2 separate regions of the Homo sapiens genome follow, and region 1 is linked to region 2. The links come from fine-mapping of genetic effects on gene expression. Tissue or cell type: whole blood. Region 2 holds a variant in brackets; the other region holds the start of a gene. All regions are shown on one strand. Distances are between the middles of the regions.

Region 1 (5,474 bases), 52 kb after region 2:
AGCGTTTTTCTAATGCATTAAGTAAAATGAACTTAACTTCTCCTTGAAAAGTATTTTTCTAAGGATTTCATGACCCTCTCCAAAGTCACATAACTCTGCATTGTGGTAAAACTGGGGTCTGAAATCAATGCCCTAGGGGATAAAATCCAAACCCTAATCTCTGCCTTCCTTAGAGGTCAAGACTAGCTCCTAGAACTTCAGCCCCATGAGGCCCCACATTCTCCACCAGACACGGAAAGGGTGAGACCTAATTAATGGCAATTGATCCATCAATCAATTTTCAGAGATTAAGGCGAGCGTTGATTCACATGCTTCCCAACGCAGACTTCCAGTCTGTACTAAGTTCTGTGCTTTACGAAAGACTTTCAGAAACAGATCTTAACTTCTTCATTCAGAGATAGATTAGATAGATACATAGATACAATTAAAAAGAAAAAAATTACTTTGTTGAGATCCCCTCTGTCCTTATCCTCATGGCCACATCTGACAGTCCCTTCCTAGCATCTCCCAAAGCACTATCCCAGGAAAGGACTAGGTTTGCCCAGTAACTCTGACATGACCACAACTGGGGGGAAAGAATGCAGGTTTGAGGGACAGAGATGCAAGTCAGAAGCTCAAAGTGGAGACGGGAGGGCCACCAATGAAATGACCTGCTGTGTGGCCAGCAATTTAGTCTCTCTGTCAGTTTCCTGCAGCTACAAAAATTGAGGTTAAGATGGCCAACGTAAGAGAGCTGTTACCAGGAATGCCTTATAAAATCATTCCCTTAATAAGTGGGGCTTTTAACAGCCAAATAAATGGGTCCCATCAGCCTTTGACCTTCAGGTTGCTAAGGGCAGTTTCTCAGCCCTCTCGGTTCACTTGTTTTTCTTTTATACATATATCCTTATTTATTTTTACTGTACCTATCGATTCACTGTTAAAACAGGGACAAGACCTAGAAAGATGGCACTTTGTTTCCTGGCTCTGAACAAGTTAAATCAAACAATAGGTTATAATTCAAAATTCCTGGTGCCCAATACTTTCTGAGCATTTTAACCACTCCAAGCCAGAGTTTTCTCTCTGGCAAAGAATAACAGAAAGCTCACATAGTGGCAACGACAACTGAACGTGATAAAGCAGAGCGCCTGCCACAACAGTAGATGCCCAATAAATGCTAGTTCTCCTCCTCCCTCAGTGCCATGTCTTCTTCCTCCAGCTGCCTTGTCTAAAAAGGCTGGCTTCCACACTCCACGGCCAGGCCAGGACAAGCCTACCACTTGTCAGAAACTCCCGCCAGTATCCGTTCCTGCACCCAGACACACACTTACAAATCAGTCATCCCCAAGACCAAAGACACAGGGGTTCCAAAAGGCACCCTCAAGGGAACCAGTCACCAGCCTTCCTCGTTAAGCAGCTCTGTGCTCTCAGGGAGAGAACTTAGCCCCAGCAGCCACTACTAGGATTTTCCCATGGTGCAATGCAACTTCCCCAACTTTTCCGGGCCCAGTTTCCAAAGAAACCCAGGCAGGCGTTGTGCACAATCAGCCACCAGTCTGGGAGAGACTGGGCTCTGAGCAGAGAAAAAGGAGCTGGGACAGCCAGAAAATGAAAAAGCAGTTGTGGCCCCGGCACAGGATGGCAGCGACCAAAACTTAAGAGTAGGGGTCCTGGCCCAAGTCCCATTCTTCTGGACGGTACCCTTGGTTAAAGGCTAGCACAGGGTGCCAAAGCTAGCGGACGGTGAGGAGCCTCAGAAAAGGGACTGATGGACATCCTCCGAGGTACCCCCTACCCGCTACTGGACCTGGTGGCCCCCGGGGACCCTGTCGTCGAGGCACCTGAGAGTGAAGGCCTTCAGCGGGGGGCATTGTTCACAGCGAACGGCGGGACTGGGGGAGGCGGCGGGACTTCGGGATCCGCGCACCGCCGCCTCCCCAACTGGGCCAGAGGAGCGAGTCCACCGAGGCCATCGCCAGGTGGAGCGGCGGCCCCGGCGAGGTACCCTCGGCCAGCAGGAGGGAGAAGCGGAGGGCGCGTCCCAGAGGCGGGGGCCAAGGGTCTGCCACTCACCCGCGCCTTCGGCGGGCTGCGGCGGCCCGACGACGCCGTTCAGGTAGAGAATGGGCAGCAGGTGAGGCTGCGTCTTCTCCAGCGCCGCCCGCAGGTCCTGGAAGTGGTCCCGCTCCTTGGCCAAGAGCAGCTTGAGCAGCAGCTCCGCCTTGGCGCCTCCCGCCTCCTCGTCCAGCTGCCGCCGCTCGCCGGGACTGAGCGCTCCCGCGGCCTCGAGCAGCCCGAGCACGGCTTCCACCTCCGTCATGGCCTGGGCCAGGCTCTGCTGACACTGGGCGAGCAGCTCCCGGCGCTGGGGCTCCATGGTGGCGGGCCGCGCCGCCCCGCCCCGCCGGACGCCTCCCGGGCCCCCCGAGGCCGGCGGGCGGGCAGGCGAGCACCTCGGCAGCAGCCCTAGGGCGCCGGGAGCCGTGAGGCGGCGGGAGCCATGGGCCGGGGCCTGGGCGGGCTGGGGGCCCGGGGCGGCGGGCGGCGCTCAGCAGCGGCCGCCTCCCGGGCTCCGGAGCGCAGCCATGTTGGCTGCCGCGGCGGCGGGACTGGAAGAGGAGGAGGAGGAGACGGAGGAGGAGAAGGAGGAGGCGGAGGTGGGGACGGCGGCCGGGGCGCGCCCCGAGGCCGGGCTCCAGCCGGGCATGCTCCCCCTCCCCCTCAGCCTCCGCGCGCGCCGCCCGCCCCGCGAGAAAACTCGCCCCGAAAGCCGGGCCGCGCGCCGCCCCCAGAGCAAGACTACAACTCCCGGGAGAAAGTCGCCTGGGCCGTGTTTCCCAGGCTCCCGACAGCTCCGGCCCGGCTCGGAGGCCGCCTCGGCCCCCGTGCACCCCGGCCCGGCTCACCGGGGCCCCGCGGCCGCCACCCGCTCCCCCGTGGCCACAGCCCCGCCGCCGCCGGCCCGTCCCTCCTCTCTCCCCTCCCCAGGCCGTCCCTCCGGGAGGCGGCAGCAGGGGAGGAGGGGACGGGCGGAGGGGAGGGGTCCCCGGCCCGCCCGCTAGGCGGGGACGCGGCGCCGGCTGGTTCCCGGTCCCCCGAGGCCCAGGCGCAGCCGGGGGTGGGGGACACGGAGTCAGGCCTGGCACGCGGCCAGCCCACAAGCTGCTGGAGACCCCCTCATACAAATCTTGCCCCCAGTCCAGAGGGTCCTAATCTGAGAACTCCAAAATACAGCCTGGAGACAAATGGTGGGGAGGGTTTCCCCTAAATTTGGACATCTCCAGATTAAGACCTCCGCCGAATCCGTGAGGCTTTCCCTCTCCAAGGAGCTCCTAAGAGAATTTCCCAGTAAAATCGCCTCAACTGCGGTAAATAGGCTGTTCCCCGCGCCAGCATTTGAGAAGAGCTGGTCCCCAGAGTGTAAAGGAGTTAGGATGTTGGCAGGAGGAAGGATGTGTCGCCGGATGAGGAAAAGAAAGGTGGGTGTCTGCGGTGCAGTCCTTGGTCTTTCTGGCAAGTGAGGCGCTCTCCCCCTAAATGTCTCAGAGGGAGACAAATCAGCGGACTACCTTGCTTCCTTTGATGACTTGGAAAGGATCTGCAGTCCCCCTTAAAGCCCAAGAATGTCTTCTCTTCCACGACAGCCGTTTGTGGACACATACTGCTTACCTCCCTGACTGCAGGACAAGGTCCTTCAAAGCTGGAACTCTGACTGCGCTCAGTGATCCCGCAGTGCTCCTCTGTAGAGTGGGAACCCAGGTCCATTTCAAATATCTACGTTGGAATGAGTGGATCTCGCTGGGGGTGAGAGGCACTTTGTCTACCCACACTGCCAGTCCCAGCCACATGCCTCCTCCCTTCCCTCAAAAAGCAGTGTCTTCTTAGTCTGCTTCTTCAAGGGGAGAAGTCGTTTTTATTTATGGAAACGAACTCACTATATGGTAGAAAGAACAAGAGTATCAGAATTTGCACTTTGGACTTGGACTCCCCTCTAAGCAGCTGCACAAGGTGGAACAAACCAATAATCCTTGCTGATCTGTTTTGTCCTTAGGAAAAATGGTGGAGGGAGAATATTAGATCAGGGGTTCTTAGCCTTGGCTTCATGAATAAGCTCAAGGATGTCAATGAAGCTTTTGACATGATCTCAACTTTTTTGTGAACATTTATATATTTTTCTGGAATGGGGTCCATAGAGTTACAAGTTCTTTAAGACCTCCAGATGGACCCCAATATGGCAGAAATGAACTATTTAAAGATACCTGCCTGCTCCCGTAGTCTGACCCTCTATGGCTAAGCAAGGTTTTAGAGGAGTGGAAGGCTGGCCATTGCACAGTATCAGGGTTCCAGACAGGCTCCCTGGCTCTTCCCTCCCAGTCCTGCTCCTGAGATATAGTTCTTTCTGGCCGCCACTTCCCTTAGGGCAACCCCAGAGCTTAAATCATCTGCAAGGCAGTCACCTTTCAGGCACCTTTCATCCGGCACCTGTGTTCTTAGCTGGATTAACTAGAAAGCTAGTTGGAGGAAGGAAGGTGAAAGTGGAGGAAGGGGAAAAGAGGAAAAGTTGGAGACGAATCTGGCTTATGGTTAGAAGCATATTTTTTGGCCAGGCAAAGTGGCTCACGCCTGTAATCCCAGCACTTTGGGAGGCTGAGGTAGGCGGATTGCCTGAGCTCAGGAGTTGGAGACCAGCCTGGCCAACGTGGTAAAACCCCGTCTCTAACAAAAATACAAAAATTTAGCCAGGCATGATGGTGCAAGCCTGTAATCCCAGCTGTTCAGGAGGCTGAGGCATGAGAATTGCTTGAACCCAGGAGGTGGAGGTTGCAGTGAGCTGAAATTGCACCACTGCACTCCAGGCTGGGTGACCGAGCAAGACTCTGTCTCAAAAAAAAGAAAAAAAAACTTATTTTTTGAGACAGAGTCTCACTCTGTCGCCCAGGCTGGATTGCAGTGGGGCAAACACAGTTCACTGCAGCCTCAATTTCTTGGGCTCAAGCAACTATCCTGCCTCAGCCTCCCGAGGAGTAGCTGGGATCATAGGTGCTTGCCACCACACCTGGCTAATTTTTTAAATATTTTGTAGACACAGGGTCTTGCCACATTGCCCAGGCTGGTCTTGAACTCCTGGGCTCAAGTTATCCTCCCGCCTCGGTCTCCCAAAGTTCTGGAATTACAGATGTTAGTTACCACCCGGACCAATTTTAGGATTCCTTTAGCCAGTGACCTTGGTGTGACCTTGTACTTCTGCAGCATTTTATACCTTCTGCGGCACACCCTTGTAGTGGGTCGAATTGTGTTCCCCCAAAAGATATGTTCTAGTCCTAATTCCCAGTACCTGTGAATGTGACTTATTTAGAAATAGGGTCTTTGCAGATGTAATCTAGTTCAAATGAGGTCATACTGGATTAGGGCGGGTCCTCATCCAATAACTGTTGTTCTTATTAGAATAGGGAAATTTGGATGCAGAGACACAGAGAAAATGCCATGTGAAGATG
Region 2 (5,474 bases):
TCTGTGAAATAAAGTCAAATGCAATTCGGGCAATCCATTGATATCTTCAAAGAACAAGAACCCAACACAATGCCTATTTTCTAAACTCAACTACCATTTTTTAAATAGTATTTTTTCTTTATGGGGGCAAGGAAGGCTAGCCACTGACATGTTGGTGGATTGTTTTTGGAAGACGTCTACTCAGGAAAGCAGGCACAAATAAATTTCCCCACTCTCACCTCCAGAAATCTCTATGCTCAACCCATCCCAGCTTACGACACTGGCAGCCTGCGCTCCAGATGCCTCTGCTGGAACGCTCCCCTCTTTCTTACTCTTGGCATCAGCAGTGCCCCTTCTTCCAGTAAACTGCCCCTCCTCTTCAAATCGTCTCTCTCCTCCCCTGTGGCAAGTTTCCACTGTTAATTAAGCTTGGCAGATGCCCTTCCCTCTCTCCGCCCACCTACCTCCCTGGCTGGGGGAGTCCACAGGCCAAGCGACACGTTCTGTTCCTCTTCCCTGTCCCTGCAGTCCTGACTGGCCTCTGGGGCCTAACCAGGGCAGCGTGACATCTTTGTGTGCATCTCTGGGCATCACTCCCACCCCCAACCCAGGGAGCTGGCAGGGCTCCTAGGAGCTGGTGGGGGGAGTGGTTAAAATTGGACAGGACCCAGTTTTTACAATGTTCCCAGAGCCTTGGACGTCATTAAGGGGGAAAAAAGGCCCAAAGACGACATTGTCTCGGTCATGCTTTGTCTCTGCGGTTATTGTTGTCCTAAAGGCCTGTGTGGTCAGGACAGTCAGGAAAAGGCAAAAGAAGCCACTGTCCCCCAAAGTCACACGGTGTCCTTTCAAGGCCGGTTGCTTCCATGGGGCGGAGGGGCAGGTGTCGGCGTCATCTACCTCTGGGGTTTCGCCATCAAATTTGGAGTCAAATTTGGTGCTCCTCATCTTCTGCCATGGCCCAATCCAGGAGGAGACAATTTCCCCAGGTTCTCCTGAAGGCACCTCCACCCAACCTGCCCTGAAACCTAGGATGGGCTGCTGTGGAAGGAGAAACAGTGTGGAGGGACATTCTCTACCTCACAGAGTGCCCAGGGCTAAGGGGGACTGTAGGATCAGCCTCCTGATGTGTGTGTGTGTGTGTGCACACACACACACACACACACGAGAGGAGGGCACCAACCACAAACTTGTGCAAGCTACCAAGTACCATGCAGAGGTGCTGATGAGATCCAGAGAAAGTTGGATGATGTGGAAACATTTCCAGAAAAGGGGAGCTTGAGGCCAAGTTTAGACGTGGACATGTGGGCCAGAGCGTGATATAAGGAGATTCTTTACTATCAAAGGAACTACCTGGGCAACGTAAACTCTTATTCAGCAGATGAGGGTGGGGTTTCAGAATGCATTTCTCACAAGCCCCCAGGGCACATGCTCTACACACTGGCCCAGAGCTGGAGTCCACAGGTGGGATGCACATGGAAGCTGCAGCCAAAACCCTGGGAGAGGTGGAAGGAAGCCACTGGGAGGAAGCCAGCCTGGTGACCCTCTGGGACTGGCCCACGGGCACTGTCTGTGTCCTTTCCAAGAGCCCAGCCCCTGATAATTCTGTTTACCCCGTGACTCAGTGCCACTGGGTCACGAAGACCACTTCAAAAGAAATTCCAGGAAAAACCACCCGAACAATAATGGAATGCCCCAGCCCTCCCAGGCCCCCTCCCATAGACCATGAGGCCCAAGAGAGATGGAAGCACGCCCCCAACACACCCCTTCCATTCACCTGGAGCTTGTAAAGGCCCTGGTGACTCACGCTTCCTCTTCGTGAAGCTCACAGTGGCTGAAGGAACTTGTTCCAGCCTTGAACCAGCACACAGAGTTCTCCCTGTCCTCCAGAAGGGCCCAGGCAGAAAGGCAGAGAGCTGACGGCTCACGGTCACAGGGAGGCCAGCACCCCCTACCTCAATCCCCAGGGAAAGGAGAGGGAGACACCAAGCTGCTACTCTCTGGAGCTCTGGGGTCCCTGAAGACAGAGCAGGAAGTGCTGCCTGGGCCCCAGGAGGACAGTCACTTTCAGGGCACCTGCCACATCCTGCCGCCCTCCTCCAGCTCACACTGAGGAACCACAGCCTGACGAACCACAGCAGAATGACCGAAGGTGCCCAATCGCTCCCGGACTCACACGTGTCAGCCAGGTTTCCAACACGTGCCCCCCGCCTAGCATGGCACTGGGCCAGGTTCGGGAGAAAGAATGGCAAGCCAGGGGCTCAAGAGCCTGGAGGTTACTCATCTGCTGTGAGTAGCCTTCAGAAGAAGGCCCTTCTCTCTGAGCCAAACAATAATGATTGCAGCACAGCTGGGGCCAAACTGCTTGGAGTTAACTCCCAGCCCAGCCCCTTATGAGCTGTGTGCTGTTAGGTAAGTCACTCTGCCTCTCTGTGCTTCCACATACTTATCAGTAAAATGGGATGATAGAAGTGCTTATCTCTTAGAGCTGTTTGAGGATAAACTGATTTAATGCAGGTTGAGTATCCCTAATCCAAAAATCTCCAAAATCTGAAACTTTTTGAGCACCAACATGACACCACAGCAGAAAATTCCACACCTGACCTCATGTGATGGGCCAGTCAAAA[T/C]GCAGGCGCAGGATACAGTTTATTCTGCTTCCTCAAAGGAAAAACAAAATTATCTTCAGGCTATGTGTATATAAGGTGTATATGAAATGAGAATACGTTTCACATCTAGACTTGGGTCCTATCCCCAAGATATCTCATTATGTATATGCAAATATTCCAGAATCTAGAGAAATCCAAACCCCAAAAACACTTCTGGTTCCAAGGATTTCAGATAAGGGATATTCTGCCTGTTTGTGAAAAGTGACTGAAACAGTACCTCGCATAGCCGGTACTCTAAGTGTTAGCTGGTGTTATTATGGTCAGTCCAGACCTGCAGAGGGCCCTTCCAACTCTGCTGTTCAATTCCTCAATTACCTACATGGAAAGCTGTACTAGAGTGACAAGTCACACAATCTACAAGCAAACTGCTGCACTGTATATGGCACTCTCAAGAAAAATAATAGCAGCTAATAGGTACTAAGCACTACTAAGTACTGGGACTGTGCTAAGCACTTTGCATGTATTGCCTCCATTAATTTCCATAACAACCCAAAGGTTGTCATTATTAGTCCCATTTCACAGAGGAAGAAACTAAGAGTTAGAAAAATTAATTTGCTGAAGGTCGTGCTAGGGCTACTAAGAGCACAAACAGGATACAAACCCAGGCAGTCTACCCCAGCGCCTGTGCTCTCAAATCCTACACACAATACTGCTGCCCGGCTCCACAGGGAAGAGCAGTCAGAGAGGACTTCATGGAGGCAGGGGCCTGGAGCTGGCCCTGAAAGGTGGTGGCCTTGGATAAGCACATGAGAAGCCCGATCAGCTTGCAGGAGACAACAGGCGGAACCCATTTCTCTGGAAGGGTAAGAAGTCTCAGAGCAGGGCTGGCTTGGGCCAAGGCCCCCCAGCCTCTATTCCCTGGGAATGGGCTCACCTCCTCCCTGCCCACCTCCCCACACCGAGACAACACTCAATAGGCATTCTGAGCTGAGCCACTTCCACCCAAGTGGGAAGAAAGAGAAGGAGCTGTGGCTTCATGGCCCCCATTCCATACCCATGCCTGTGCTGCCTGCAGAGGGGAGTCGCAGTGTGTGGGCAAGCCTGCACTCAAGAGCCACTCAATTCTGTGAACTGCAGAGATGAGGAAGGAGGTGACCGTGAAAGTTGCGGAGTGCTATCACCTTTGGCAGAGCCCACCTTCTCTGTTTTAAAGACCTCCTGGGATGCTGGGGGGACAGAGGGCTCATATCCTACTATTAGGCTACTAGGAAGCCTGCTTGCAGAACCATGCTCAGTTCTCAGGAGGGAAGAAAGGTGGCAGGGAAAAAAAAAAGAAAAGAAAAAACTACACTCAGGGCAGCCCCAGCCCCTCCCTAGGGGCTCGGCCTCCTACCCTTTAAAAGCACGGCCCAAGGCTACAGACACTGAAACCCAAACTGGGAAGCGGACAAGGCCCAGTATTTCAGGGAGGTATAGGTTGACCATGGCCCTGGAATGGAGCAACCACAGACACTGGCATGTCATCAAGGAAGTCCTGCTGATGCGCCTTATATGCCACCCGAGGGTGGGAAAATCCTACTCTTGGTTTGTAAGTTAAGATTTAATATTTGTTTTCCTCAACTGAGATAATGCTATAGTATTTTCCACCAAGTTTTGGAACAAGCAGCATCACTGCGCTAAAAAAAAAAAAAATCATAATGATGTGGATTCCCCCTATTTCTGGTCGTTATAAGAACTGCTCACCTATCTTTAAAAGGTAAAGGTGGCCAGGTGAGGTGGCTCATGCCTGTAATCCCAGCACTTTGGGAGGCTGAAGCAGGAGGATCACTTAGGTCAGGAGTTCAAGACCAGCCTGGGCAATATAGCAAGACCCCATCTCTCTTTTTTTTTTTTTTTTTTTGAAAGAGAGTCTCACTCTGTTGCCCAGGCTGGAGTGCAGTGGCACAATCTTAGCTCACTGTAACCTCCACCTCCCAGGTTCAAGCTATTCTCGAGCCTCAGCCTCCTGAGTAGCTGGGACTACAGGCATGCACCACCATGCCTGGCTATTTTGTATTTTTTAGTAAAGACGGGGTTTCACCACGTTGGCCAGGCCGGTCTCGAACTCCTGACTTCAGGTGATCCACCCCAAAATGCTGGAATTACAGGCATGAGCCACCACACCCAGCCAATCCCATCTTTTTTTTCTAAGAGGAAGGAAGGAAGGAAGGAAGGAAGGGAGGGAGGGAGGGAGGGAAGGAAGGGAAGGAAGGAAGGAAAAAAAAAAAGTAAAGGGGAAGGGGCATTGCCCAGATAATTGGAGATTTAACCTCAGGTATGCAGTGAGATCTGTGTGGGGTGGCAGGAAGGAAGATGATGGCTGCCGAGCTCTCTGTCCATTCTTTTTTTTTTTTTTAAACTTTATATTTTAAAATAAATAGAGACAGGGTCTCTCTTTGTTGCCCAGGCTGGTCTCAAACTTCTAGGCTCAAGCAATCTGCTCGCCTCAGCCTCCCAAAGTGCTGGGATTACAGGTGTGCGCCACCACACCTGGCTTTTGTGTCCATTCCTTAACACATTCCCTAACCCCTTCCCACTGGACTTTTGAGGCCATTTATAAAATAATGAACTAAATTGCCTGAACCTGAGAAAACTCTCGTATCAATTTTGCCATCTGTGACTCCCCTCCCTTCCCCACCCAAAATGCCCCAAGGCAAAAATATGTAAAGAGAGGGAAAACAAAACATGTGCACCCCAGAATTAAATCATTCAGTACCATGCAAGACCCTTCACTCGCTAACTACAGGACTGGTTTTGGTCTTTTTCTTTACTTTTTTTTTTTTCCTCTTTTAAGTGGCAAGTGACAGGGACTAAAAAAAAATAAAATAAAACTAGCACATAAAGGAAAGA

The links. PIP is the estimated chance that this variant, and not a neighbour inherited with it, causes the effect.
Region 1: it holds the start of DLG5, and the variant in region 2 is fine-mapped to the expression of DLG5 in whole blood (INTERVAL, PIP above 0.99).

The regions. Positions count from the first base shown.
Region 1 is chr10:77,924,165-77,929,638 of GRCh38, forward strand. DLG5 (discs large MAGUK scaffold protein 5) reads right to left here and starts at 2,591. Exons shown (of 32, transcript NM_004747.4): 1 at 2,053-2,591. The coding sequence starts at 2,356. It overlaps DLG5-AS1 (DLG5 antisense RNA 1), which reads left to right and starts at 2,648. Exons shown (of 1, transcript NR_024585.1): 1 at 2,648-5,474. RefSeq lists a silencer at 4,284-4,460.
Region 2 is chr10:77,871,908-77,877,381 of GRCh38, forward strand. All of the region lies in intron 1 of DLG5 (discs large MAGUK scaffold protein 5), which reads right to left. Among named protein-coding and RNA genes, the nearest start is that of DLG5, 52 kb to the right of the region's middle. The variant T/C (reference allele first, on the strand shown) is at 2,607.